Linked DNA regions of Homo sapiens. The protein of the gene in region 4 interacts with the protein of the main gene of each other region in a pairwise test. Each region holds a gene or a part of one and is shown on either strand. Other genes may lie near its edges. The genes, in order: FNDC9, SPACA1, BTN2A1 and NSG1.

Region 1 (7,749 bases), on a different chromosome or scaffold from region 4:
AAAAATATAAAGCGGGGAAAGGACAGACACCCTTTTCAACAAATGGTGCTGGGATAATTGGCAAGCCACATGTAGAAGAATGAAACTGGATCCTCATCTCTCACCTTATACAAAATTCAACTCAAGATGGATCAAAGACTTAAATCTAAGACCTGAAACCATAAAAATTTTATAAGATAACATCTGAAAAACCCTTCTAGACATTGGCTTAGGCAAAGACTTCATGACCAAGAGCCCAAAAGCAAATGCAACAAAAACAAAGATAAATAAATGGGACTTAAACTAAAAAACTTCTGCATAGCAAAAGAAATAATCAGCAGAGTAAACAGACAACCCACAGAGTGGGAGAAAATCTTTGCAAACTATACATCTGACAAAGGACTAATACCCAAAATCTACAAGGAATTCAAACAAATCAGTAAGAAAAACAAACAAACAAACAAACAATCCCATCAAAAAGTGGGCTAAGGACATGAACAGACAATTCTCAAAAGAAGATATACAAATGGCCAACAAACATAAAAGAAAAAGCTCAGCATCGCTAATGATCAGGGAAATGCAAATCAAAACCACAATGTGATATCACCTTACTCCTGCAAGAATGACCATAATCGAAAATCAAAAAATAATAGATGTTGGCGTGGATGTGGTGAAAAGGGAACACTTTTACGCTGCTGGTGGGAATGTAAACCAGTACAAATATAATGGAAAAGAGTGTGGAAATTCCTTTAAGAACTAAAAGTGAGAACTACCATTTGATCCAGCAATCCCACTACTGGGTATCTACCCAGAGGAAAGGAAATCATTCGAAAAGGATATTGCACACGCATGTTTATAGCAGCACAATTCGCAATTGCAAAAATATGGAACCAGCCCAATGCCCACTAATCAATGAGTGGATAAAGAAAATGTGGCATGTATACATCATGGAATACTACTCAGCCATAAAAAGCAATGAAATAACGGCATTTGCAGCAACCTGGATGGAGTTGGAGACCATTATTCTAAGTCAAGTAACTCGGGAATGGAAAACCAAACATGATTATGTTCTCACTTGAGTGGGAGCTAAGCTATGAGGACAGAAAGGCATTAAGAATGATACAATGAATTTTGGAGACTCAGAAGGGTGGGAGGAGGGAGAGGGATAAAAGACTACACATTGGGCATAGCGTATACTGCTCGTATGATGGGTGCACCAAAATCTCAGAAATCACCACTAAAGAATTAATCTACGTAACCAAAAACCACCTGTTCCCCCAAAATTTATTGAAATAAAAAAAACTGAAATAAGTAAATAAATAAATAAATACATAAAGTGAGGGAATTTGGCCAGGTGCGGTGGCTAATGCCTGTAGTCCCAGTACTTTGGGAGGCCAAGGTGGGTGGATTGCTTGAGCCCAGGAGTTCGAGACCAGTCTGGGCAACACGGTGTGGGGAGGATGCTTTTTTTTTTTTTTTGAGATGAAGTCTTCCACTGTCGCCCAGGCTGGAGTGCAGTGGTGCGATCTTGGTTCACTGCAATGGCAGGGTGCTTTTATGCTCTGTGGGGACTCACCACTAGCTCTTGGGAAGAGGCATGCTGTATGCATTGCTGCAGATTTAAGACAGGCCCCTGGGAAGACTGAATGCCATGGGAAAGCCGCAGAGCAACTATCTGATCTCATATCTACTAAAAATACAAAAATTAGCCAGGTGAGGCGGGGGGCAGTGGCTCACGCCTGTAATCCCAGTACTTTGGGAGGCTGAGGTGGGTGGATCACCTGAGGTCAGAAGTTCAAGACCAGCCTGGCCAACATGGTGAAACTCCGTCTCTACTAAAAATACAAAAATTAGCTGGGCATGGTGGTGCACACCTGTAGTCCCAGGTACTCGGGAGGCTGAGGCAGGAGAATCACTGGAACCCGGGAGGCAGAGGTTGCAGTGAGCCGCAATTTTGCCACTGCATTCCAGCCTGGGCAACAGAGTGAGACTCCAGCTCAAAAATAATAATAATTAGCCAGGGGTGGTAGTGCACACCTGTAGTCCTAGCTACTTGAGGGGGCTGAGGCAGGAGGATCTCCTGAGCCTTGGGAGGTCAAGGCTGCAGTGAGCCATGACTGTGCCACTGCACTCCAGCCTGGGAATTCCAGGGCGTGCTCTGTGAGCCACTCACTTTCCCCATGTGCCAATCCAGCTTTGGGACTGGGGCTTGCCCCATATTATCCCTTCACTGCCACCTTCAGGAAGGGTGGAAGAACCTTGCTCCTAGCTGATTTCCTCTAGCAGTAATTTACTACTGATGTCAACTAGCTGGGGCTCACCTGGCCTGAGAGCGAAGAGGCTACAACTTGCACAGACTCTGGAGGAATTGTCCCTGATGATGGAGAAAGTGTGAGCCTGGCTGGGGTGTAATGTCCTGGGGCAGGTGTCCCAGATACTTTATCTCCTTCACAAACGGCTGCACTGGCTCCTCTGGGTGCTGCTGGTGAGCGGCGACAGCTCAGAGGAGCGGGATGAACCCTGGCCTCCGCCTCCGAGTCTGGGGCCCCACCCCATTTCACTGGCAGCTCTGCCACTCATCAGTCAAGCGGTCTGAGGAATGCCATGTCTTCTCCCAGGACTGTGAAACAAGAGGGCTTGGAGGCCTCACATTCTCTGAGTATCTTAATTCCACAGTGGAAAATTTCTCTTGGTTAAAAATGTCATCCAAGAATATTAAAAATAAATTCCAATTTTCTGTGGAAAAAGGCTTGAGTTCTACCTTGTTCCTCCTCAGACCCCTTAACTCTGGTATTTTTACTCCCCGCAAAATAACCTTTTCAAAGGGCATCTGCAAACAGCTGCGTGGCCTTTCTGTGGGGAGGATGCTTTTATGCTCCGTGGGGACTCACCATTAGCACTTGACCTGGCTGTGCTCGCATGGGAAGAGACATGCTGCATGCATTGCTGCAGATTTAAGACAGGCGCCTGGGAAGACTGAATGCCATGGGCAAGCTGCAGAGCAACTTTCTGATCAAGGAACACTGGCTTGTTCCCGAGTTCCCAAGACTCCAAGCCTCCCGGAGACCTTTGGCCAAGGGTAGGGTCACAACTCACCAAGGCGGCTCTTTTTTTTTTTTTTTTCCAAGGGAAAAAGTCTTTCTATAATACCCAGGCTGGTCTGGAACTCTTAAGCTCAAGTGATCCTCCCACCTCAGCCTCCCAAGTGGCTGGGACTACAGGTGCACACCACTGCAGCTGTGCCTGGCTTTCTTCCTAACCTTTTATCATTAATGTGAATCAGAAAGAGACCTTCATGGGTTAACTTGGATACTTTGGCCAAGAACCAAGAAGAGAAAAGCTGACTTTTAAAAACATATAATGTGTATAAATTTATTCAGGTCTACATCTATCTGAGCTACTTTCCACCCTCTATTCCAGACACACCCTGTGATCTCAATAGAATGGTGGCAATGGGTTCTTACAAGGTTGAAAGGAACAGGAAGGGATGGAACCTCAAAGCCAGACGGCCCTTTATGAGAAAAGGGGAGGCAAGCAGTCTGGATTCTTGAAAGGAAAGGAACGCTGGGGATGATTCAATCCAGGAGTAGCAAACAGTTTCCATTTCTGGCGTCAACTCCAACTGATTGATTGGGAAGCAGTTTCTTGGGACGCTTGTGTTCAGAGGAACTCTGGGGCTGTTTCTGCACCCAGCTGGAAGCAGTGCTGCATTAGATTCCTAGGGTTGCTATCACAAATTACCATAAATGTGGCAGCTTAACATGACAGAAATTTATTCTCTCACAGTTCTGGAGACCAGAAGCCTGAAATCAAGGCTCTCGCAGAACCATGCCCTCTCCAAGGCTCTAGGGGAGAATGTTTCCTTGCCTTCCCAGCTGCTGATGGCTCCCGGTGTTCCTTGGCTGATGGCAGCATCCTTCCACTCTCTGCCTCTGTTTTCCCTTGGCTTCTTCCCCTTGAGTCTCTCTGTCTTTTCTCTTACAAAGACATTAGTCATTGGATTTAGGGCTCACCCTTAAATCCAGGAAGATTTCATCTTGAGATCCTTAACTAGTTATATCTACGAAGGCTCTATTTCTAAATCAGGTCACATCCTAAGGTTCTGGATGGATATGTATTTTGGGGGGGCATTATTCAACCCAGTGAGAGTGCCATGATGGTTTAGCAAGCTTGACAGGGGTTCAGGGCTGTGCAGGGATAGGGCTCAGGTCTTCTGCCTTCTGATCTGCCATCCTGATGTAGCCCAAGCCCACAGCTTTACAGATGATGGTGGAACTGAGACTCAGACAATAAAAATAAAAGGGTCTTGACCAGTACCATATAACTATGTAATGGCACATGAGTCAAGAATAAAGAAAGATGAAGATAAAGAGGTGGGGTAGGCAGTTGGGATGGGGAAGTGTAGGGGTGGGAGGGGATGAAGATGAATATTACTGCTTTGGTTGTGGAATAACTGAGAAAAGCATCTTTGCATTTAAAACCATTGGCCAAAGAGGATCTAGATGGGACAAGAAAATAATAATCAGCCAACTGGGGAGAAAATGTAGGAGTGTTAGAAGAATTAGTACTGCACTGGGGACCAGTTTTCAGGGGATCATCTGCCCTTTTTCAGCCAAAGGAATGAGAGCTCCTCTCACTGGGCAAAAGCCTTTCCAGGCTGGTCCCTGAAAGCATCGTGCGTACAGATGCCTGCTGGTTGCCATGGTGAATGATGCTGATCTGAAGAAATGAATAATGTGAGCATTAGGGGCGGCAGTGGGATTACTCAGTGTTGAGAGAAACAACACGGAAAGCCCAGAGCAGAGGAGGGAGAAGGCCCCATTCTCTCAGCTTTAATCTACTGCACCTCGGAGGGCAGAGCTCTAACCAGACACGCTGCAAGCATCAGGTAAGACATATAGATGGCTCTTCTTGGAAATGGAAATGGCTTCTTTTCACACTCTGCTTGGAGAAGGGCCGGGCAAATGAATAGTTAAAAATAGGGGAGAATTTAGAAACGGAAACAGAGGAAGAAAAATCAATAAGGGAGACGGACCTGGTCCTAAAAGGTGAGGATGCTATTTGCGTCTTGACAGAAAGCTCTTAAAAATGTCTGCTGAGGTAATTCCATCTGTACAGACAGCTAGTGGCAGATAGGAAGCCAAGAGAACATTTGTGCGTGACAAGAAACAGGATTCCTGATTACTCCTGATGGAAAGGTTTTACACAGGTGGCTGCCTATAATGAATTAAGCTCTTTTCATCGTGGTCGAAAGTGTATTTATAGTGATGTGTGGTGTGGGGAGGATGAGTGTGTAGAGGACACCAAGCTAGGAAACATAAACATTCGGTCTCCTTCATGATGACCTTCCCTGGAAGGGTCTGAGCACATCCGTCTCATCCCTTTCGTTCCCTATTTACTGGGAAGAAATATTCAGCCACATAGAAAGACACTATTCACCTTCCTGAGTATCTTAGTTCACTGTTACCCTTACAGAAGAAAAACAAGGATTAAGAAACTACTCAATGCTGTGCACCTTTCTGCAGCTCCACTCCTGGAGGAAAATGGGCACAAACACAAGAGGATGGGGGAAAGCAGAGGTGAGAGAAAGGCAGGTCATAATAGCCATTGGTTTGGCTTAATATCCAATGCAGGCGAAAATCCAGTTGACAGCTGTTTACTATGTCACTGCAACCCAAAATGAAACCTACGGGGTTTCATGTGAGGGAGGAGAGGCGGAAGACAAAGCAGGGTGAGACTGTTATGTGAATATGCGTAGGCTGACTATGACTGTCTCTGTATTTCTGATCAGGGGCAATCAGTAGAGGGAACTGCATGAGAGAAACTAAAATACTTGAAGATGGCTCTCTCTTATCAAAGCGGGGCCTGGCAATCTAAAGAGGGCTCATTTGATTTGTCTGGAAAAACAGCAACTGGGTCTCAGTCCTGGCACCTCATTTTGCGATAACGTCTGTAACTAAACCCGGCAGCCTTGCATTAGGAAATGTAGTGGTTAGGCGGCACTAAGTCCTTTTTCTACGTATTAGCGGTGTGACATCAGGTTGCTCATCCGTAAAATGGGAATCTAGCTCAGAGGATGTGATGAAGAATAAAGGAAATTAATTACTGCCTGTGAATCATCTAGCATGACAAGTGACATAGCAACCACTTACTGTGAGTGGTTATTACCATGATTAACATTCATAATAACAGCAGAATTAAATAGTGGTAGTTATGCTGATATTAGGGGCTGATTATCTTCACCCATAAAATAAATTTCCTGGTACCGCTGGCTTTGAAAAAACAAACAAACAAAACAAGAGCAGAAGCTTTGGGGTGAGATCAGCTGCCAAAGAGTGACGAAGCGAATTTCCACTCACCATGGGCAACAGAACCAGGAGGCTAAAAAAAGCAGTGGGCAGAATGTTCTAGATCACTGAGCTCACAGTACTTGGAGCAGAAACAGGAGGTCAAGAAGGAAAATTGAGGTGAATCAATTGCCTGAGGGGAGGTCACAGACCTGAGAATAAAGGTGGAGCCTCTGAGGTTCTACTGATTTCTCCTTACCTTTTCTTCTTTTTTCTTAAGGGGATGAGAACAATCCCCTTAAGAAAATCCCCTTTGTTATCTGAAGGATCTCAGCTAGGGTGGGATGTGGCTGGGATTGCATGGGTGCATCTGTTCTTAGGCCTGAACTTTGGCATGGGACAGCCCCAGTTTTAACTTTTGTCCTGCCACTTTTTCGCTATGCCTAAATAACAGAACCTCTCGGCCTCCATTTCTTTGTCTGTAAGATGAGGGCAACATGAGTGCCCGTCTCAAATGTGCAATAAATGGTGGCTATGATTATGATAAATACATACTTAAATCAGGGGATGTCACTCTTCACTTTGATTCTGGTTCCAGAATCGGGATGAACATCGAGGTGGGGAACATTTCTTATACAGGAGCCATCATCTCCTGGTCGTCCTCGGAGCCCTGCCTGGAGGACTATTACCATATTATGTACAGGCCCAACTGGAACAGCATCTTCTCTGGCTATCTTCGCTACAGCTTCCACCACGAGGAGAAGGTGCCTCGAACGATCAGCTCCGTGGTGCTGGAACATCTTGCCCCTTCCACTCTCTACTTCCTGTGCATCAGCTGTAAGAAGGCTGCCTTCCCTTACAGGCACTACTGCACCATGTTCCACACCCTGGATAAGAGTCCGCTGGCTCCTGGAAGCTCCCTGGTAGACCCCCAGATCTCCCTTTGGGTGCTGATGGCCATTCTGCTGGCCTGCTTCACAGCCGTCTTGGCCTTCATCTGCCTCCAGTTCTGGTGTGTCCGTTGCCATGAGCCGCGATGGTCTTACAGGGCTGGCCACATGGAGGAGGCCAATGGGTTGGTGAGATGGCCAGAGGAGGCCCCGGATCTTGGTCAGAGGGAGGAAGACCTGCAGGGGCTCCCCCTGGTGGAAATGCCACGCAAGAACTCCAGAGATGGAGCTGAACTGGATCCCGAAGCCAACCAGGATGCCCCTGATGCGGGTGCCTTACAGAGGGGGGGTGGTGACCCACCCGCTATACTGCCTCATTGTGGGGAATGAGAGTGGGGAGGAGAGCGCCCGCATCATGTAGCCTAAAGCTTTCCACACAGTAGGTCGTTTGTACAAATGTGTCTATAGACTACCCATTTCTCTCCCATCAAACGTCACTGCTATTGTAGGTCACCTGGGTTGGATGAATGCCCCATGACAAAGCTTCTCAAGCTGGAAAATGTATCCCCCAGGGTATGCCAAGGCACAAACGA
Region 2 (7,021 bases), on a different chromosome or scaffold from region 4:
GAAGAAGTGGAATTTAAAATTTTATGATTTCCTTTGAGTATGTCAACTGGTTGCCTCCTTCTACTCAGTGGCAACCTGAGGTGAAAAATATTTCCCCAGAGTAAACTCTTGCCCACAGTCTCCCTCCAATACATAATTCAACTCACAGCCACAATCTGTTGGTCCACGGCATTCTTCTACCCGTACAACACACTTGGATTCACCACCAGGGCATCCATTTGTTAATATAACTTCTCTAACACCAATACCTTTGGTTTAAAATTTAAAAAGGCAAATGTTAAGAAAAAAACTGATTCCAGAGTGTCTTCACTTTCCCACCTAGGTCTTTTCTTAAGACTTTTCTTCTAATTTCAGAAATTAAGTTTCTAAATTCAGAACGATAACACTTAAAATTTTTTTGGCTCTTCATTTTGAATTATTTCCTAAAACAGCATTTTCTGGAGTGAGTTACGTGAAACACTAGTTCCTCTGGTTACCATAAGAAAAAGGATTCCATGATCATACACATTTGAAAATGTTACATCAAATGAAATTAAAGGGACCGCTTTACTACGGAATTTTGAGGGAACTTTTAATACACTAGTAAAATAACATGCTATTGTGTACATTCGCATTGATCTAAGATGTAAAAACATTTTAACATCTTTAAAATCAGAATACATTTACAATTGATAACATGTCATAAATTAATTGGCAGTATTTTTCCTTTTTAGAGTACATAAAATGTACTTCTTACAGTCCATAAATTCGTGGATTTGATGGAATATAGTGGTATACAATATTTCCCAAACTTATTTGACCATGGAACTTTTTGGGGAAGCATGGGGAAAGTTTCTGGAGGAAAATAAAAAATCACATTTTAGCATAAATGATGCCTTTAAATATTTAGATTCATAAAATGTCTGTATTAAATATAGAGAGGAGAACCTATTACTGACCAAATCTCCATTTCCAACAAGATGCTCTCTTTAGATTGTCACACTTTTTGTAACAAGAACTTAACTCTCCTAACTGATCTCAGAATTCCAGAGTTGGCCTCACATCACCACAATTGAGAGAAATAACAAAACATGGGATTAGCTACATGTTGAACCGTGTCCCATGTTAAGACAGGCTAAGAAAGAGTCCATTTTTATTTCCTTAATTACCAGATTTCCTCTTCCAGCCCCTCTACGATGTTATCTTAGAGGGCAAAGGGAAGTTGATGACTAGAGGTGTCTTATAACTGCTTCTCCAACTTGACAGTGCATGCAAGTCACCTGGAGATTTACTAAAATGCAAATTTTGATTCAGCTGTTCTTGAATGGGTTTGAGATTCTGCATTTCTAACAAGCTCCCAGGTGATACTGATGCAGTCTGTGGACCGCACGTTGAATAGTAAGGGAGAAGGCTACATACGAAACAAGAAAATGGAAGGATGGAAGGAAGAAGGTCTTTGGTTAAGAGAGATGATGGCTGAGAATGGCTGAAGTACGGCTCCACTTGAGTTTATCAAAGTTTTTTTTTGAGACGGAGTCTTGCTCTGTTGCAGAGGCTAGAGTGCAGTGGCGCGATCTCAGCTCACTGCAACCTCCGCCTCCCGGGTTCAAGCAATTCTCCTGCCTCAGCCTCCTGAATAGCTGGGATTACAGGCGCGTGCCACTACGCCCAGCTAATTTTTGTATTTTTGGTAGAGACAGGGTTTCACCATGGTGGTCAGGCTGGTCTCGAACTCCTGACCTGGTGATCCGCCAGCCTCAGCCTCCCAAAGTGCTGGGATTACAGGCATGAGCCACCACGGCCAACCTGAAAGCGTCTTTAGAAGCACAGCCTTAATTCCGAAGTAATTAACATGCTATTGTTAATATTTTTAAAACAGGTTTTTTGTTGTTGTTTGTTTTGTTTTGTTTTTGAGATGGAGTCTCGCTTTGTCGCCAGGCTGGAGTGCAGTGGTGCCATCTCAGTTCACGCAACCTCCACCTCCCGGCTTCAAGCAATTCTCCTGCCTTAGCCTCCCAAGTAGCTGGGACTACAGGTATGTGCCACCGCACCCAGCTAATTTTTCTGTATTTTTAGTAGAGATGGGGTTTCACCATGTTGGCCAGGATGGCCTCGATATCTGGACCTCGTGATCCACCCGCCTCGGCCTCCCAAAGTGCTGGGATTACAGGCGTGAGCCACCGCGCCCGGCTTAAAGCAGTTATTTTATGTATTTATTTATTTAGCTAAATACAGTTCACTGAGATGCATGTAGGTGTGGGATTTTCTGTAATACCAAGTAACATCTAAAAATCTGCCTGGATATAAAAGAAAACTTTTTGACTGCTAAAATATTGTTTCAGGAGTTTAACAGAATTTTCATCAAGGCATTTTTCTCTTCTAGTTCTAAATTGGAAGGTTTTTAACATTTTCGGCATGAAATATTGCTTTTCCTAGTTTATTTTTTTCCTTATAACTTATTACCATCTGATACATTACATGTTTTACATATTATGTGTCTGCTCTTACTAAACTATACATTGCTTGGGGGCAGAGAGTTTTGTCTGCTTTGTCTGCTCATATCCCTAGCATCTATAACGATGCCTGGCACATAGTAGGCAAATAATTTTAAAAAAATAATCATTTGAGTGAGTACAATTTCTAAACTTGTCTTTAAATAATAGAAAACAATGGCAATTACTCGAACTGTCATAAAAATAATTCTCTACCTGTGAAAATTTCCGAAGTTAGTAGCTAAACAAAGATGTAAACCACAAATAAGTAATTGCAGGCTTACTACATGGATTTCTCTCATTTTATGACTCTTGACTTACTAAGAAATTAAGGTTAAAAAAAAAAACAGGTTAAAACAATTTTAAGAGATAGAAAGAAGAGTGGTTGCCAGGAGCTGGGAGGAGGGGGGAACAGGAAGTTAGTGTTTAATGGGCATTTTAGTTTGACATAATAAAAAAGTTCTCGAGATGGGCGGTTGTGATGGTTGCACAAGAATGTGAATATGCTTAAGTCAACGGACTTGTATGTTTAAAAACGGCTAAAATGGTAAGTTTTATGTTGGGTATACTGTACCACAATTTTAAAAAGCTTCTCCAAATAAAAACAATTCAGGTGTAATTTTTGACACCGCCACCCCTGCAAAATTCATTCTGATCTAGATCTGAATGGATTTTGTCTTCTTATCCTCTGATAATTGTCCCGTTTTCCCTCTCATCACTATTTTCTTTCCAAGGCAGATTCTATTTAGAAGAAATTTAATTTGATTGTGAATTATCTATGGTCTTCTCAGTACCCTGGTCTACAGCATTGTTTCTCAAAGGATAGTCCTCTAACTAGCAGCATCAACTTCATTGTAAACTTGTTAGAGAAATTTTATGTCCAATTTCTACCCATGGAATGATCAGACTAAGTCATATTCTTTGAATATTATCCTCCCCACAAAGCCAATACATCTTTTCTCCAAAACATGACACGCAAATTGGAGAAATGTAGAATTTAGAATGGACTATTACAAATAAGCAAATTCTTGATAAATTTGCCAACACAATATGTGGGAAGACATCTGTGAGATGCATTGGAAAATCTTTCGTCTTCTGAACATCTGTGAGATAGAGAAAATTTTACTTTGGTGAAGGCAGTTTATGTGCAAAAAAAAAAAAAATAGGGAGCTGGCTTAAAATAAGATTTAGAGATTATAAACTGAAAATATCTTACAGTTTAAAGCAATCACCCTGAGTTTTGTGTATACATTATAGTTATTAGAAATAAAAATCCATGAGAGATGCATGAAAGTACACAAGTTACAAAGTTGCACACTATCTGCTTTTACCTTTCCTCCCCCGCAAATTACAACATGGTTTATTCATCTGCTCCAAGCTACTTACCACATGTAACGGTGCACATTCCGAATTCTACTTCTTTGACGACATTCCTATTTGAAACTAAACATAAAGGGTAAAGATACATTATTTAATTATATGAAAACTTTTCTAAGTGAAACACCTCTTACTTGGAGATGAAAGACATGTGTATGATATGGGCAGCAGACATTTTTTAAGTTTTCCATTTAAATCAGAAAACAATGCCATTCTGAGTACTGTTATTGTCTAACTCAAAAGAGTCTCAAACCTCTAAAGAAGTCCATTAAATTAGGAAATAACCTAATAGGAAGGTTTATATTTAAACTTTGTATATACCTTAAAAATGTTTTTCATCAGTTGATATATAGTGAGTCAAAACTTGATAGAGGGTCTCAGAAAAACACACAAAGCCCTATCTGTTGTAAAAACCAATGTTTTCTATTCTCTATTTTCCAAAATTGAGTGTATAATTTCCATTCAAAAAGAAGCCCTTAACCAGTGTTCATTAAAATGATAAAAGTTATAGATTAGTTCTACTCATTTCCCAGGTTAAGATGGTAAATTTAAATATTTCTAAGAATTTATTTCAACACTTTACAAGGTTAGTATAGGAATATATCACTATTTAAGAAATTAAGTGTTGTTGGTTCTAAATCATATGTTTCTCTTTTTCTAATCATTTGAAGTTTGGCATAGAATTCCACTAGCTATAGTATATAAGCAATTCTTCAGCTCAAATTAGGACGAAAGTCTCAATAGAAAAAATATAAAGTGAGTTGTTAGAAGATGACTTTCAAAAGGCATTGTACCCTAGGACAACAAATCGCATGGAAAACACATCGAACTGGAGTCCAAAGAGCTGCTTCTATCACTAATTAGCTGTTTGCATTTAAGCAAATTTAATTAAATGCTGTCAGGCTTAGTTAACCCTTCTGCAAAATTTGGAAAGGAAAATCCTCATTTGATTGCTGTAAGAATTAAATAAGGATAATGTGTGTGAAAGCATTCTATAAATTGTTTAGTACTACAAACATACTTAAGATATAATTACCCAATTTAAACTCATTTTGTACTTATTAATTTAATGTTTTTTTCCCCTATTTTGATAACTGTAAAATCTCAAAATAGCTTCATAAACACTACTATTCTGTACTTAAGAGCACCAAATATAGTTTTTTGTTTTTGTTTTTCCGAGAGAGTCTTGCTCTGTTGCCCAGGCTGGAGTGTAGTGGCATGATCCCGGCTCACTGCAACCTCCGCCTCCCAGGCACAAGTGATTCTTCTGCTTCAGCCTCCTGAGTAGCTGGGACTACAGGCAGACGCCACCATGCCCACCTAATTTTTGTATTTTCAGTAGAGACGGGGTTTCACCATGTTGGCCAGGCTGGTCTCAAACTCCTGACCTCAAGTGATCCACCAGCCTCAGTCTCCCAAAGTGCTGGGATTACAGGAATAAGCCACCGTGCCCAGCCCCAGTATAGTATCTTGCATACTCAGTAAGCACCCAATGCACATAAGTAAATCAATATTGACTTTAAGTCATTTCTTTAACGAAAATAAATGATTTAGACTATCATGATGATCCATTTTGAATTGTGGAATGCTTAGATACCTTCTACAGACACATTATGAGACACAAATTAAAAGCCAAATCCTGAACATAGAAAACACGGCTAAGAGAATGAGTGCTGCACTACTTTTAAATATAAGCCTTTTTCAAAAACCATTAGTCAATCACTAGGCATTCTACTTTGGGAGAGTTGTTCAATTTCTTCCAACTTGTTTCCTTAAAGAAAAAAAAAATGAGACTAAATAAGAAAGTTTCTAAAGTCCCTTTCAGCTTTAATATTCTATGATGTATTGAGTGTCCATTAGTTTACTCAGTAACTTTTTTTAAAAATGGGAATCCTACAATGGTGGGTCAGTGGAATTGTATGTAACTGGACTTCAGTTTGGCATTTGTCAAAATTTCTTGTTATAAACCTATGAGTGGTAAAAAAAATATATGGTCTGAATGTCAGTAGTTTTATGTGAAACTGTTTAAACTCTAAGACCACAGTTGTTAATTAACCAGTTGGTGTCAACATGGTAGGAGTGATGTGTCACAGGGCTCTGTCCTGTTCAACATTTTTATTAATGACCTGGAAAAAGATGCTGTTATCATGCTGACTGAATCCAGAATTCTGCAAAGCTAGAAAGGATAGCAAATATATTTGATGATACATCTGGATCTAAAAGATGACAGGGTGAAATAATGGGCAAATCTAACAAAATGAAACCTTGTAGGAATAAAAAGTCCTTCACATACAGCTAAAAAGCCAACTGTCCAAAACTATTTTATGGGTGGTCTTAATTTGATAGGACAGTTAAAAACGAATGGAGAGTTCAATAGTGAATTCAATAGGAATCAAAGATGTGCAGAGGCTTCCCTAAAAATCTACTGGGTCTTAGACTACACTAACAAAAGCCTGGCATCCACAGTGATAAGGAAAATGATCTTGCTCTTTTAGTTGTGGCCAGATCCTGAAATGTTCTCTTCAGTTCAGGACAGCACATGGTAACTTTTGGTATATATCATCAGAGTGCAATTTGAGTTTTTCAGTTTCTGACAGTTGATTTGAAAGGCTGATATTTTATGACTTCTGTTCTTCCTTAGAAGTATTCCAAGACAAAAATAACATATAGTTATATTTGTATAGGATAAAACCCATTGTATAGACTACAACTTTCTATTTTGCAATTACTATGTAGGTCTATTGGCCCCTTTTTATAAATCTAAGGGTATACTTGTATAAAAGATATATTTAAAAGGTATATTACATGGTATACAAGGTATAACAAAAGTATAAGGATATAAATCTATTATCTTTTTTTTTTTTTAAGACAGAGTCTCGCTCTGTTGCCCAGGCTGGAGTGCAGTGGCGTAATCTCGGCTCACTGCAAGCTCCACCTCCTGGGTTCACGCCATTCTCCTGCCTCAGCCTCCTGAGTAGCTGGAACTACAGGCACACGCAACCACGCCCGGCTAATTTTTTGTATTTTTAGTAGAGATGGGGTTTCACCGTGTTAGCCAGGATGCTCTCGATCTCCACCTTGTGATCTGCCCACCTCGGCCTTCCGAAGCACTGGGATTACAGGCGTGAGCCACCGCCCCTGGCCATAAATCTAATATCTTAATGATTTTTCTT
Region 3 (7,215 bases), on a different chromosome or scaffold from region 4:
ATTATCCTGCACCTTAAAGGCTTTTTCAGTCCTCAAATATATCTTTTTTGTTGTTGTTTAATTTTTGATACAGAGTCTTGCTCTGTCGCCCAGGCTGGAGTGATGTGGTAAGATCTCGGCTCCCTGCAACCTCTGCCTCCTGGGTTCAAGCAATTCTTGTGCCTCAGCCTCCCAAGAAGCTCAGATTACAGGCACACTCCACAAAGCCTGGCTAATGTTTCTGTATTTTTAGTAGAGATGGGGTTGCACCATGCTGGCCAGGCTGGTCTCGAACTCCTGGCCTCAAGTAATCCACCTGCCTCTGCCTCCCAAAGTGCTCGTATTACAGGTATGAGCCACCACGCCCAGCCCAAATATATCTTTTAAAGCATAATACACTAACCCCAAAACTGAAGTAATCACTTAATGTCATTTTAACAAATTCCTAGAAATCCCAGTTTAAATGCATTTTTATGTGGAAGGCTTCCCTATTACCTCCCAGCAAAATTCGTAGTCTTTCTCTATGGAGTTAGCAGGAACTATATATAATTTTGCTTCTGTATTTCGTCTTGGTTTAATAAAACCATCTATTTACAATAAGTCACTCTCTCTGCAATCAGCATTTTGGGAAAGATGAAGTAAAGATTAATATTTATCAAGAAATAAGATTTGATATGTTGTAGTTCTCTGGGTAATCAGTTTATTCCAGTTGTCTTGGAACAATTATTGACAGTGTCTCCTCTCACTCTCAGAAGTGCAACCTGGGAGGCAGAGGTTGCAGTGAGACAAGATCGTGCCAGCGAGGGTACAACAGAGCAAGACTCTGTCTCAAAAAGAAAAAAAAAACCCAAAAGAAGTGCACAGTTCAATCCTAAGGCAGGTATAAGACTTCTCTTCCGAGACTGACCATTTTCCCCTGCTCACGGCCTCAGCTGAATTCTGCATGTGCTTCTCAAGAAGTGAAGCCCTTAGCTTAGCAGGGCAAACCCACTCATGTGTCCCTTGTGCAGGAGGAAGGATTTTTCCCTGGAATTCCGTTTCCACAGGGAGAGTGGAAAAGGGAGTCCAGACAAAAATTTGCTGGTCTGCAATGGGCCTGAGGTTAGGAGAGAAACTTTCCCCAAAGTCACACTGTGCCAAAGTAACAAAGCAAAATGAAGCGACGCACCTGCCACTACGAGGTGCAGGATGGCCTCATCGTAGGACCTGCCTTCTTGGAAGTAACAGCGGTAGGTGCCGTTTTCCTGGGCTGTGATGTTGTGTATGACCAGGGCCACGCTGCCCCTGCTGATGTCTTTGCTCACAAAGGTGGTTCTTCCTCGGTACTCCTCCATCTGCTCCTCTGTTCTCTCTCTGCCACCTTTATACACAAACACTGCGGGGGAGAACTGAGACCGGAACCACCGCACCTCCATGTCCTCAGCATTTTTCTCGGGTGACAGATGGCAGCGTAACGTAGTGTTTTCTCCAACCGTGGCCAAGATGGGATCAGTGGGCCCCACGACAATAAACTGGGCTGTTCAACAAAGGGGTAGAGTCAGACAAAGACACCAGCCATCACATCTCTAAGGCAAGAAAGGAAGCAGATATTCTAGGGACAAACTTATTTTTTCCATGGCCATAGGGTCTCTTTGGGCTGAGAAATCTGGGGACCAGTAGCTGTGGCTAGTCGACAGCACCCCTGGGAGCAGTAACTATAAAGTGTGCTTCTGCTTCATGAAGGAAACCCTGAGGAACCTGCCCTGAGCACCCTCTGTCCACCCTGTGCCCTTGAGGGGATTTTCCTCGATTTCCCAATCTAGTGCTGTGCCTGAGTGTACTGTAAACTTGAGCCGTGCAATAGGACACATATCCACTAGCTAGTTCCAACTGAAATGAGCTGTAAGTGTAAAATACACACAGGATTATGAAGATTTAAAATTTCAAAATGTTGACTATCTCATTGGTAATATGGTATATTAACTAAGTATTTAAATATTCGTATTTGATTATTTGGGGCGAAACAAAATATAGTATACAAATTTATTTCATGTTTCTTTTTACTTTTTAAAATAAAAAGTAAAATTTAATTTTTTTTGAAAATTTGCAATTGTACATGCACTCGGCCTTTGTGCCTCACTGTATTCCTTTTGGACAGTGCTGGTATAAATTCAATGAACATGTTCAGAATGAAAGGGTAAGTCAACAACTCCACAGTCCTTCTTTCTTTCCCTTTGCAGACTACAGGGTTGATGTTCCTTTCTGATAGGTGACAGCAGCAAGTGGCACACATCCCTACCTGAGACCAGTGCACACAGGCTGAGGAGGAGGAGGAGGAGGGAGGCTGGCCGGGAGAAGTGCAGGGCAGCAGCTGATTCCATGAGCACCCAGAGCAGGCAGGGACAGGAGGCCTAGGGTTACAGAGGAGAATCAGCCTAGGAGTCTTGGCACCTCAGTGCTGGTCGGGCCCAACCTCTCCCGTCACTCAAGTAGGTCTCATCAGTGCCCCAACTTCAGGGAGTCCCCTGCATCCGAAGGCTCAGGTATGTCCCGAGAGAGGGATTCCTTAAACATTCCATGAAGTAAGCCATCAATGCCAAGATCAAGGGGGCCTTTTTCCGCCCTCCTCGGCTCACTTCTCTGGCCAGAATGCAGTTTCTTCAGTTGTCGCTGGATTCTACCACACCCTCCTCCCTTCACTTCCTCCTCCCCGCGACCCAGGCCGGGCAGCCTGAGGCAAAGACAGGCGAGGCCGCGCCTCCCCACCGGTGGGCTTTCCCTGTCCCAGGACCCCGTCTCGTGTCCACAGCAGACCCCGCTTCCCCCACCTACTGTGCCCACCCCGGAGCTGTAGCGCCTCCCCTCCGTTTCCTACCTTCTAGAATTAAACGTTGCTTTTTCTTTTCTCCGCTGGTTCTCGACGATTCTCCAGTCGTCCCTCTTCTCTCCAATCTGCCCAGGGGCACAGGCACTACTAGACACAAACCTTCCCAAAAGAGGAGAAAAAATTGTTCTTCCCCTTCTCCTAGGTCGCCATGTTTGGAGATGCAGGAAACGAAATCTGGTCTCCTGGGCTTCCACAGTCCCAAGAGTTCCCTAAGTATTTTAGAGCCCAGGATTGGCCGGGTGTGAGTGAACCAGCCAATGGTGTCGAACCTTATTTCTCAGCAGTTGCTGGGTAGAATACACCGAATCACAAATTTCAAGCAGCAAATAACCTTTTGAGATTATCGGGTCTTTTTATTTCCTTTTTCTTTGTTCGAAAGCAAGACTCTCTCTCTCTCTCTTTCTCTCTCAAGACTCTCTCTCTCTCTCTCGCTTTGAGATTCCTTGGGGAGATTCCCTGGGGTTTGTCACTGAGGTCGGTGGCTTTGCTGGTGTCCACAAGGAGAGGCCTCTCTATGTAGAGGGCAATTTTGCTGGGGAGGAAACATGAGCAGGAAAACGTAAGCCGCCCCCTTTCCAAAGCCAGAGGACTCCTGTTCAAGTTGCTGGCTTTGGAGGTTGGGCCTGGAGCGCAGGAGGGCTTGGGGGAAGCTGGCATGGCTGGAGCGGGAGGGGTAGCAAAGGAAAGGAGACAGCAGTTGCAGTGGCTGTTATGAAGGCCTTGCCATTCATTCCAAAGCTATCGGATAAGAGGTGCTGAGAATCCTGACTGAGGATCAAAAACCTTTTCCCTCAGGGAGGTGGCATTCTGGTGGTGGCAGAAGATGGAATTGAGCAAAACTTTCTAGTTGTCCTTCACCTTCTAGATAGTAGGTGGTCAGGTTGGGTCCAAGAGCCACACACAGACACACACACTAGCACACATACCATCCTCCCGTAAACATCATCCCTCTCCCAAAGGCTCCAATCTTGTAATTGTAAAGATATCTTCCAGAATAATCTTCCCGAGGCCCAGTTGTCAATATTCCCCTCAAGTGTCTAAATGCTTAGTCTGGAGGCCTCCAATTCCCTTCTGATTCAATTCAAAACTTTGCAGTTAATACGCTAGCAATGGCTCCACAGTGGCCTTGCATCACAACGTTGCACTCCCTGTGGCCAGTGCTCCTTTTCCCATGCCATGGCTTTCATTTCAATTGCTTGCTCCATCTCTGCCCCGTGAAATCCTGCCCAGCCTTCGTGCCTACTTCCTCCAAGAACAACTCTGAATGTTCCTGCCTGAAGTGTTCTCGGCCTCTTCTGACACCCAAATCTTTTGCTGTTCCCACGTCCTGTCTTGTATTATTGTTACTCAGGTATCCACTGTGTCTCTGCTGTGACAGGAGTACCTGCTTCTCAGGACAGACTTCTGCAGGATGTGATTCCTCTCACCTTACAGGGCCCAGCTCTAAGCTCTAAGCTCTGCTCTTAGCTGTTGTTCAATGCATGAGTGACATGCTCAGGGTAAGGTCATTCCCACCACATCATGGCCCAGTTCCTGGAGTCATTTGGCACCAGAGTGCGAGAGAGAGGTGCTAGCAGGATTAAGCCACTCTAGGTCAGGATTTCTAGGACTGGAAAGGAGGAACCAGTAGGTTCCTTCTGCAGAGAAAGCTCTTTGATGAGAATAAGCTAAAGAAAGCTCTGAGAACTCTTTTTTCCATTGGACTGACCCTTAAACTGTCTCTTTCTCATACAGTAGTCTCACACGTCACCTGATGTTTCTGGATTATAATTCAAATAAGATTCTGGGTTGAGTGGCTTATGAGGGTAAATACATCAGTATTAGAACTGTATGTATATGAATTCCAAACAGGACTGGGCAGCTGTTGAGAAGAGGCAGAAGAGAAGGATGAAAGGGTCTAACAGCATGGCCAGCCAGGATGAGATCTGACTTTATATTTTTTTACCTGAAGAAATAAGGCCCAGGGCTTTGAAGTAGCCCTTTTGCCAGAAGCATCCAGCTAAGCCAGGCTTCAGCCTCTGCCAAAGTTGATCTGAGCTAGAGGGAAACGTGTGTGTTCTGAGAAGGAAGAGGATCAGTTGACGATGGGGTAGCTTAGAAAGAAATCAGGCTCTACTGGGGTGTGCCCGGTTAGATAGTAACAACCTAACCCAATCATGCTCTGTAGTGGGAGGGATAGAGACAGGAAGGGTCACGTTGGCAAGGTTCTTTATGGACCTGCCAACCCTGGAAGAACCAGGATACAGGGTAAGCATTGATTTCCTTTTGCTTTACAATAAACTACAGTCTGTGAAGGTAATATAGCTGTGTCATCTCCAGCTATGGAGTACTCCCAGGGGAGGCCTAGACATGTTGACATACAGAAAATCCATTCCTACTCTGCCCTGTTCAAATTCTAGATTCCTGACTCACAGAATCACTGAACATATTATAATAGTTGCATAAGCTTCTGAATATTAGGACTACAAGCAATATTAACGAGTACATTTATCTTGCCTCAAAAGAACACATTTTTTCAAAAAGAAGAAATGATACTGGGCTTCTAAAAGAACCAAACGTGAGAAATTTGCCTAAACTCTTTCCATCTTGTAGCCTTCTCTCTGCTCATCTGCTTTGGTCTTCTCTGCAATCCACCATTGTTTAGTCCACACCATGAATGGAGCATTTCTTCCCACAGCTCCCATGCACATCTGCTACAGGAGTAACTAGCCACATGTCACTTGGTCCTCTGGCCTAGCCTGGGTCAGGTGTCCATCCCAGACCCAGTCCATGTGGTGAGGCTGCAGGGCCATGTGATGTGGGCATGTATTGGAAGAGAAGAGGTCACTAATGCTAAATGTGGTACAGCGAGGGCAGAGAGACCTTGAAAGGCATTCACTATATTCTCAGAGGCAGAGCCCTTATAACAGACGCTGTTGATGCCCCATCCCATATTCTCTTGGCCTATCACAGTTTGCCAATAGCTGAGGCACAGTTTTCTGCAAGGATGACAACCTTTCCACCTCCAGTGAGTATCTCCCTTCTCCTTTGCCTGTGAGCTTTATCACACCCGTGATAGTTGCTTTTCTGCAGTTACATAGCCCAATCTTAAAGTGCATTAGAATTAACACTCCCAGGCCAACCTTCAACCAATTCAAGCAAAGGAGGATGGGAAGTGGAGATAAAGTCCCAGGCCCTGTAGTCCTTAGGAAGATTCTGAGCTATATCACACATTTCATATGGTTTCTTAGAGAGTCCTAAAAGGGATTCAGCCAAGTTATCCACATGGTAACTGACTCATGAGTGAACCCTTTATCCCATTTGTCATGTAATTGGCTTTTTTTCATTTCTCAATTTGTTTCTGCACTTGTGTTTCCTGGAATCACTTCCCAAATCAGTGTGGTGAGCTGAATAGTGCTCCCCGCACCCACCCTTTGAGCTATATTCACTATGAAAGTTATGAAAAGAATGTATAACACAGTAAAATGAATTTTACACAGAATTAAGGTTATGGACCTTAAAATAGAGAGATTATTCTAAATTGTCTGGGTGATCTCAGTTTAATCATAGGAGTCTTTAAAAGTAAAAGGCAGACTGAGCGTGGTGGCTCATGCCTATAATCCCAGCACTTTGGGAGACCAAGGTGGGCAGATTGCTTGAGCTCAGGAGTTTGAGACCAGCCTGGGCAACATGGCAAGACCCTGTCTCTACAAGAAAATACCCAGGCATGGTGATGTGGCTCTGTGCTCCCAGCTGCTTGAGAAGCTAAGATGGGTGGATTGCTTGAGCCCAGGGGACAATGTGGTGAGCTGAGATCACGCCACTGCACTTCAGCCTGGGTGACAGAGCGAGTCCTTGTCAAAGAAGAAAAAAAAAAAAAAAAGAAAGGAAGGAAAAAAAGGAGAAGGTAAAAGAATCAGAGAGACACAATGGAGAAAAAGACCTAGGAGATGAGCCTCAATGCGCTGTTGCTGCTTTGAAGATACAGGAAGGGAGCTAGGAGCCAGAGTGTGGCAGCCTCTAGAAGTGGGTACAGCCCTTAGCTAAAAACCAGGGAACAACTGGGACGTCAGTCCTATAAATGAAAGGAACTGATTCTGCCAATAGTCTGAATAAGCAAGGAAACAGATTCTTCCTTAGAGACTCCAGAAAGGAATCCAGCCTGCAGACACCTTGATTCTAGCCTGGTGAGATCCCTGTGGGACTTCTGACTTCTCACCTACAGAACAGTGAGATAATAAATTTGTGTTGCTTTAAGTTCATGAATTTCTGAAGCCAGGCGCGGTGGCTCATACCTGTAATCCCAGCACTTTGGGAGGCCGAGGTGGGTGGATCACAAGGTCAGTAGATCGAGACCATCCTGGACAACATGGTGAAACCTCGTCTGCACT
Region 4 (8,010 bases):
CTCCTGGGCTCAAGGGTTCTTTCCACTTCAGCCTCCCAAAGTGCTGTGATTAAAGGGATGAGCCACCAGGCCTGACCTGACTTTCTTACTATGCACTTGAATTCGAATTTACACCTCTGATGTTCATGTCTTACTTTACTGTGAATGTAAGCTAAGTGGATGCCTATTCAATTAAGCAAACATTTCCTGATTACCAGGCCATGCTCTAGACAGGGGGGATATGGAAATGAAAGATTAAGTGGTTCTGCCTGATTTGCTCATGATCTATATAGAAATGTAAATACCCAGACTCCGGGATAGAGGAGCATAAAGAAAGGCCAAGCTTCAAAGAGGAGGCAACATTGGATCTGGGCTTTGGAGGATGAGGAGCAGTTTGCAAAATCGATGAGGAGTGGGGAAGGCAATCTAGGCAAGAGAAGCAGCATTTGCAAAGGCCTGGAGGCAGGCACTTGGGGGAATGGAGAATTTGGCTACAGGACAGGGTTTAAGGAGAAACAGGGATGACTTCACCCAGGTGGGCTGATTCTTCACATTGCAAATGGATTGTCCCATTTGCAGAAAGATCCAGAGCCTAATGTCTCTCCCGATTCTGTGTCAGTGTGCCGGCTGATCCCAGTGTGCCGGCTGGTCCCAGCGTGCCGGCTGGTCCCGTGGATTGAGAAGTGGACCCAAGAAACTTAAAACCATCAGAGATGAGGATGTGTGCAGGGAGTGACTGTTGTGGGATGCAGGTTTCTTTACGGGGTGATGAAAATGTTCTGAAATTAGTGGTGATGATTGTACAACCTTGTAAATATACTAAAACCAGTTAAGCGTATACTTTAAACTGGTGATATCTGTGGCATGTGAATTACATCTCAATCTAAAAACAAGACATTTGGATGAAGCATCGCTGGATCGACGTGGCCAGGCTGCAGAAAAACAGAGCAGAACCTCTGCTGATCACCTGCCACTGAACCTCCATAGGCTGACAGCACTGGGTGGCCACCCTCCCAGCAGGACCTCATCCATCCTGGAGATCTGGCTGGCTGTGGGAGGCCTGACTAGATCCTGCAACCCATCCCAGCTCTGCAGGGAAGCCTGTGGCCGGGGACTCATCATTTGACTTCTGTGACCTGCAAAGAGGCTCATGAGGCCTCTAGGGGAAGAGTCACCTTAGTCACTCTGAACACTTGTCACATAACCAGGAAAAGTGTCTATCACCTCGCCCTGGCTCCAGCACCGGCTGCTAAGAATAGAGACCACAGGAGTACAGAATTAGAGGTCAAAGCAATAGTAATACCTAAAACAGGCACTTAAAAAAATAAGAATAGCTCATTTGATTCTCACAACACTGCTCTGATGGAGGTTTCATTATCTCCATTTATAGATGGGGAAACTGAAGCATAGAAAGGTTAAGCAGCTTGCCTGAAGTCACACTGCTAGGAAGAGAGGGACAGGATTCAAAATCGGGCCACGGCTTAGCCACTGTGTCACATTGTCTCTTGCTGTGACAGTCTGGACTTCAACCAGTGGGACAAGGGAAGTTGCTAAAACGCTTGGACCTGGAAGTACCAGGGTCATTAGAGAGCAGCGCCTGGCTGCCCTGAGGAGAGGGAGCAGGGTAGGAGTTACAATCGTACAGGCAGTGATGGGTCTGTGCCTGAGATCAGCAACCCTGGAAGTATTCCTAAAAGAGTCATTTAGGGCCAGGTGCAGTGGCTCACTCCTGTAATTCCAACACTTTGGGAGGCTGAAGCAGGTGGATCACGAGGTCAGGAGATCAGGACCATCCTTACCAATATGGTGAAACTCCGTCTCTACTAAAAATACAAAAATTAGCTGGGAGTGGTGGCACGTGCCTGTAATCCCAGCTACTCAGGAAGCTGAGGCAGGAGAATCACTTGCACCAGGGAGGCGGAGGTTGCAGTAAGCTGAGATCACGGCACTGCACTCCAGCCTGGCGACGGAGCAAGACTCCGTCCCAAAAAAAAAAAAAAAAAAAGAGTCATTTAGAAAAACTGAGTATGTGTCAACAATCTTCTGTGGCACTTGGATTTTAAATTGTTGGTGCTGGGATGAAACTGGTCCAGGGGGAGATCGCATCCCATTGATTTTCCCTTTTTGTATGTTGTGAAAATACCTGACATCTGTTTGACCTGCAACCACCATTGCAGCCTCAGCCATCCCCATTTTGGTGGCTGTGGCTTCTTCAACCTAATTTCTGCCACCCTCTGTGAATGACTTGGGTTCTCCAAATCACCACACCCTTGCAAGCTTAATGCCTGTAGTGAGCTGAATGGCGACCCTTAAAAGATATGTCCACATGCTAACCCCGGGAACCTGATTTACCTTACATAGTAAAAGAGTGAACATTATCTTATATGGCAAAGATAGGATTAAGTTAAGGATTTTGAGAGGGAGACCTTATCCTGGATTATCCCAGCAGGCCCTAAATCCTATGATGAGTGTCCTTATAAGAGACACAGAGAAGAGGAGGAGGCAATATGACTGGAGTGACATGAAGGCAGAGATTGGAGTGATGCAGCCACAGTCAAAGAATGTCTGGAGCCACTGGAAGCTGGAGGGGGAAAGAACAGGTTCTTCTCTGTGGCTTGTAGAGGGAGTGAGGCCCTGCTGGGACCTAGACTTTAGACTTCTGGCCTCCAAAGCCAGGAGAGAACATGTTTCTATTGTTTTAAGCCAAATTTGTTCCAACAGTGGCAGGAAGCTCATATACTGTCTTAACACATTCTGTTCTCCTACCTGGAATGCCTTCCCCTCTGCACGCACCTCTCTCAGGCCCACCTGTAGGAAGCTTTATCCACAGTCTTTACCCACAGTCTCTGGATGTCCTCCCTCCTGGCAAGAGGCAGAGGCCACTCTCCCACAGGGCCACTGCTCCCAGCAAAGACTTGCCCTTGTCCGTAGCTCCCTGCGGGTGGCGCTGTGTCTCATGCATTTTGCATTGTCCATGCCCTTCACAGGGCCCAGATACAATCAGCAGAGGAAGAAAACCACAGGATGAAACAGTCCCAATGACCAGCACCAGTGAAGACCCAAGACAGCACAAAAGGCCAGCTAGCAGAGAAACATGATTGTTCACCGTCCATCTCTGGGACAACCTAGGTCCTTCTTGCCTTTCTGTCCTCCTCAGTTGACAGAGTCTCTAAGGGAGGGGCAGGGCCTCCACTTTGTTCCTCCTGGTGTGGAATTCTGACCAAGTGTGTGTGTGTGTGTGTGTGTGTGTGTGTGTGTGTTTGCGCGCGCGCGTGTGTGTTGGGTTCTGTTAAATGCTTGAGCCTGAGACGGGGGGCGGGGCGGGGGGGGGTGCGGGAAAGCCATTTCCTTGCTTAAGCCCAAAGGGTTTCTCCTGACCAGTGGGTCACTCTCATGGCAGATGCCTGGGCAGATTTCTGAAGTGGAGCAAGAGAAATCTTCTCTTCTTCACCTGCTTCAGGGAGGCATCAAAGTGCCAAAAAGGTGGGTTCTGTGGGTCCCCGAGGCCCGTGGCAGGGGCCAGAGTCTGACACCCGCTTTCCCTGGGTTGGGGGCGGGGTGCCTCTGCCAGGAGCCTGGGTTCAGACCAGGCTGGCCTGTGGTCAAAGGCACACTTAGACCCTGGCTGGAGAGTTGGGGCGAGTTACGAGATACCCACTAGGTCACCTGTCAAAGACGGCTAGCCCTCCTGGGGATTTTGAAATCAGGGCACCCGCGGCAAGTTCCCAGGCTGTGCCTGGGGCTCAAGGCGGTGGCTGCTCCTGTGCTCTGGGCTTATTCCCAGGATTCTCAGACGGCTGATGGAAAACGCCCCGGACCCTCCGTAGTGCCGCGGGGAAGTCCCCGGAAAGGGTGTGAAAAAGTATCGAATTTGGGTGATGCCTCCTCCTCGTCCAGCGCCTGACAGGGCCCAGCTCCTGGCCCAGGTGCCCAGGAGGCACCGATCCCCGCAGCCGGCCTCCTCCCGCGCGGGCTCCACTCCCATTTCGGCCTCGCCCCCACACCCCATAGTCTTTCATCCGTGAGTCCTGCAGGCAGGACGGGTTGGAGGTCTGCAAACAGGACCCTCTCTGGGAAGCCGCGACAGCGGCTGAGCTCGGGGTTTGGGGGCGCAGGTCGGGCTAGAACCACCCCCCTTCTCTCCGCGTCCGGGCATCGTCCCAGCGGCCCCTCCTCTGTGCCCAGGATGCTCGGGCGGCGGCTGCAGTGGGACCTCCACCTTCTCTGCCAACCAGAGCGGAGGAACCTTTCCGCCTCCCTCCAAGCGGCGCACTGAGCGCTCTTTGCCTAGAACGACTTCCCTCCCGCTGCCTGGGGCAGCCTCACCCTGGGCGCCCACACCCCAGCCCTGGGAGAGCGCTACTCCGCCTCCCGCACCACCGAAAACCTCCTCCTCCTTTACGGGCCGCGCCTCCTTTACGGGCCGCGCCCCCTTTATACGCGGACGCGCCCTCTTTTGGTCGCCCCCTCCCCAACCCAGCACTAAGGAGCACCCTGCTCTGGTCTCCGCCACCACCCAGCGCCTCCTGGACCCATCCCCCCAAACCCTTGAACGTCCTCAGGACCCCCAGGTGAGCGCGGCGCGCTGCGGGCGGGGACCCTCTCTGCACCTCCCCGCACCCCTGGGGGTCGCTCTGTCCCTACGGTCCCCGCCTCCCCTTTCTCCTTTCTAAGCGCCTCGCGCCCAGGCCGCCGCCCGGGGTGGCGCAGCCCGCAGCCCTCCCGCTCCGGGCGCCCTCCGCCGCTCCGAGACCCCCTGGGGGCGCGTCCTCTCCCGCTCCCCTGTTCCCTCCCCCGGCTCAGGGCGGGCGCGTGGTCCCAGGGGAGGCTCCCGCCCAGCCCCGCACTCCTTTGTGCGGCCGGGCGGGCGCTGCGTCAAGGTGGAGGCGCGGCCACACGCGCGCACCCACCCGCGCGCACCCAGCCCCCGGGAGAGGCAGGAAGGGAGGCGGCGGCGCGAGGAGGAGGGAGCGGCCGTGGAGCCCAATCGTTCGCTCCCCTTCCCGGGTCCGCGCGCGGCGCCGCCTCCGCCATTGCTGCGAGCAGGAGCAGGAGACGCGGAGCTCGGAGCGCTCAGCTGACCTGCCGGAGCCGGGCGTGGGTGAGTGCGGCCGGCCGCGCCTGGGCTTGCCGAGGCCAGACCTTGCCCGCCCAGGAGCAGTGCCCGGGGGATGCCCATCTCCCGGAGTACGCGGGACGGGGCTGTGAACAGCGGGTCGCCCGGGTGCGGCGGCCCCAGGACCGGGGACCGGGTCTGGAGGTGCTGGGCAGGGGCGGCGCCCCCTTCCCTGGCCGCGGTGCGCCCTTGCGCCCGGCGCTTGGGTCCTGCGAGATGAGGGTCTAGAAATACACAGCACCACCCGACCCCCGCATCGGGCCGTGACCACCGCGTCCCCACGAGCCCTCCCCGAGACGAAGCGGGGCCGGGGAGCTCGCGGACGCCGGGACGCCGGTGGGTGTGGGTGCCCACTTCCCCCCCGCCCCGCCCCGGGTCTTGCTTGTGGTGACTCCCCCCGGCCCTCCCGCCGCAGGCTGCAGCCTCGGAGCTCCCGGAACGATGGTGAAGTTGGGGAACAATTTCGCAGAGAAGGGCACCAAGCAGCCGCTGCTGGAGGATGGCTTCGACACCATTCCCCTGATGACGCCCCTCGATGTCAATCAGCTGCAGTTCCCGCCCCCGGATAAGGTAAGCCCCCCCACGCCCCTCCACGTTGCCGGGTGTGCACCCCCAAATCTCGCACGGCGGGCGCAACAAAAGAAACGCGCCGCGTGCGCTGGGTACGCGAAGTGGGGGCGGGCTCGGGAGGCCGGAGGGAGCGCGGCGAGGACAGTGTACCCGCGCGGGATTCTGGATCGCGGGATGCTGGGCGGGGGAGGGGAGCCCTGCCTTAGATGATATTCTCGTCCTGACAGTGGAACGCGGTGGGGCAAGATTCCTTCGCGTTTTTCCTGGGAGCCTCATCCGAGAGGGCCCTGGCCCCGCAGCTGCCCTGCTCCTCCCTTGCCCCGTGGCCCCAGGGGCTCTGGATCGGGGGTGAGCCTAGGGGCGGGCGAGGCTGCCCCTGTACCTTCCCGGGTGTGGCAGTTCAGCCCGACTTGCCCCACCGAGGCGGGGGAGCGTTCTCCTTGGTCAGATGGCCCCTCCCCAGGGCTGAATTGTTCTCGCCCTTTCTGCCTGCCCCTGCCAGGCTGGCGCTAGGTGCAGGAGGGTGTGCGCGCTCACACAGGGTCTCCTTCCTCTTTGTTCCTTTTGTGAAATCTCCAAATAAGTGCCCGGGCTCGCTCAGTATTGGTGTCACTGGGAAAAACCATTCATCAACCTTTCCCCAAAGTGTTTTCTGCTGAATTTAAAGAATCTCCTCTTTTTGAATGTAGCATCCAATTAAGTAGTTTCTGTTTGCTAAGAATAATATTTCCAAGAGTTAACACTTAAAAATGTAAATAGATCTTTGCATGTCTAGGCAATTGTACTGTAAAATTCACATCTAAGACCATAGACACAGCATCTACTCTCAGCATCTTGCTGCCGCTTACGAACCACCACAGCCACGAATAATTCCCGGAAGTGCTTTTCTATTTATTTTCTCATTTAGTCCCTGGTGAAGGGGCTCTGAGCCAGGGCTCTGTCTTCGTTCCAGCAAGTTGGTGATTGCTGACGGGGTGGGTGTTGTGGGGTGGGGGTGTCCTGGTGGGGGCCCTGACCCCTGTGAAGGTGTCCTCCCAGCTTTATTGTGTGTGTCGTCTGGGGAGGGAGGCAGGAGCCGGGAAGAGGCTGGCAGCGGGGGTTTCAGTTCAAGAAAGGGGGATCAGCCGGCCACACCTGTGCCCCCCAGGCCACGGTGGTGCCACTCTGGGCCACTGATGGTCCAGGCTAGGCTTTGCAGGAGGGGCAGGGCTGCCTGAGGCCTCAGCTTCCACTCCACCCCTCCCTGTCTAGGCATCAGACTCGTCCAGTTAGCGGGGCCTGGCCCCGAGGCCCCCACACCCCCTCCTGCCTGGGCCCCCAGCTGCTCGGCTGAGGAGCAGTGGCGCCTGTGCCAGGAACTCCGTGTCCTGAGGCAGCACCTCTATCAGGTGATTCCCCTCACTTGGCCTGAGCCTCCTCTCTTGTCCTCAGTCTGTTCCATTCCAGAACCATTTGGCACAGTTGGTTTATACAGGGAGGAGGGTTTCAGGCAGGTATGAAATCCTCACCAACTAATTAGGTCGACCAGGAGTAGCCTAGGCAGCTCGGAAAGGTGATGAGTCTGCTCTCTCTGCAAGCGTCCGAAGCGGGGCAGCCAGCAGGGATGCTCTTCTCGGGTCCAGCCAGACCTTCCATCCCGGACTTCCCGCCGGGACTGAGTGTGGGTACAAGGGTTATGGCTCTTGGGATCATTTTCCAGAAGGCTTCTAAGGTCACAATGAGGGAACTGAGCCTCAGAGCATTTATGGGACATACCCAAGGTCACTGGGCTGAAGGTTACAGTCCTCCAGGATGCAGAAGTTTCTGGCAGTGCCTCTTACTCCACTGTGCTTGGAGCCAGATGTCTCTCACGTAAGACCTCTCTTAACCTGAACAACAGCAACGTGTTGCTAACGGTCAGAGTTCAGGGAGGCGATGTCACCTGTTTCAGGTGACATGGCTTCTGAGGGGTGGTGACACAGTTGGGTTATAAATGAGAATCTGTTCTGAGAACGTGTATGGAGTGCTGAGGTGCTGGGGTGCAGCGGTGACAGCAGTCACAGTGCTGGCAGCAGAGTCAGGGCTGGTCTCCCCTGACATTTGCCAGACACTTATTCTGCACCAGGAACTATTCTGCCAGTTTTACAGGTTTAAATTCTTTTAATGTGTTGATAATGCCATGAGGTCACTACCATGTTACCCCCATTTTGCAGATGTGGAAATGCAGGCACGGAGAGTTTGAGAATTGCCCAAGGTCACCTAGCCTGTTAGTGGCAGGTGGGGATAGAATCCAGGTCGACAGAATATTGATGGGGCCCCCACATACGGGAGAGGTTTCCATGGGTTTCCTCATCCTCAGCAGTAGC

The links.
Region 1: the proteins of NSG1 (region 4) and FNDC9 interact in binary tests that used the Homo sapiens proteins (3 or more experiments, as listed by UniProt).
Region 2: the proteins of NSG1 (region 4) and SPACA1 interact in binary tests that used the Homo sapiens proteins (3 or more experiments, as listed by UniProt).
Region 3: the proteins of NSG1 (region 4) and BTN2A1 interact in binary tests that used the Homo sapiens proteins (3 or more experiments, as listed by UniProt).

What each region holds. Positions count from the first base shown.
Region 1 is NC_000005.10:157,342,659-157,350,407, reverse strand, and holds the start of FNDC9 (fibronectin type III domain-containing protein 9), read left to right. Parts: upstream 1-4,730; 5' UTR 4,731-4,867; intron 4,868-6,864; 5' UTR 6,865-6,871; coding exon 6,872-7,546; 3' UTR 7,547-7,749.
Region 2 is NC_000006.12:88,050,839-88,057,859, reverse strand, and holds part of SPACA1 (sperm acrosome membrane-associated protein 1 precursor), read right to left. Parts: intron 3,915-7,021; coding exon 3,858-3,914; intron 249-3,857; coding exon 147-248; intron 1-146. UniProt on the Homo sapiens protein: Plays a role in acrosome formation and establishment of normal sperm morphology during spermatogenesis. Important for male fertility.
Region 3 is NC_000006.12:26,453,761-26,460,975, reverse strand, and holds the start of BTN2A1 (butyrophilin subfamily 2 member A1 isoform 1 precursor), read right to left. Parts: upstream 3,022-7,215; 5' UTR 2,834-3,021; intron 2,370-2,833; 5' UTR 2,340-2,369; coding exon 2,258-2,339; intron 1,496-2,257; coding exon 1,148-1,495; intron 1-1,147.
Region 4 is NC_000004.12:4,382,094-4,390,103, forward strand, and holds the start of NSG1 (neuronal vesicle trafficking-associated protein 1), read left to right. Parts: upstream 1-5,008; 5' UTR 5,009-5,080; intron 5,081-5,510; 5' UTR 5,511-5,536; coding exon 5,537-5,665; intron 5,666-5,892; coding exon of another isoform or gene 5,893-6,013; intron 6,014-8,010.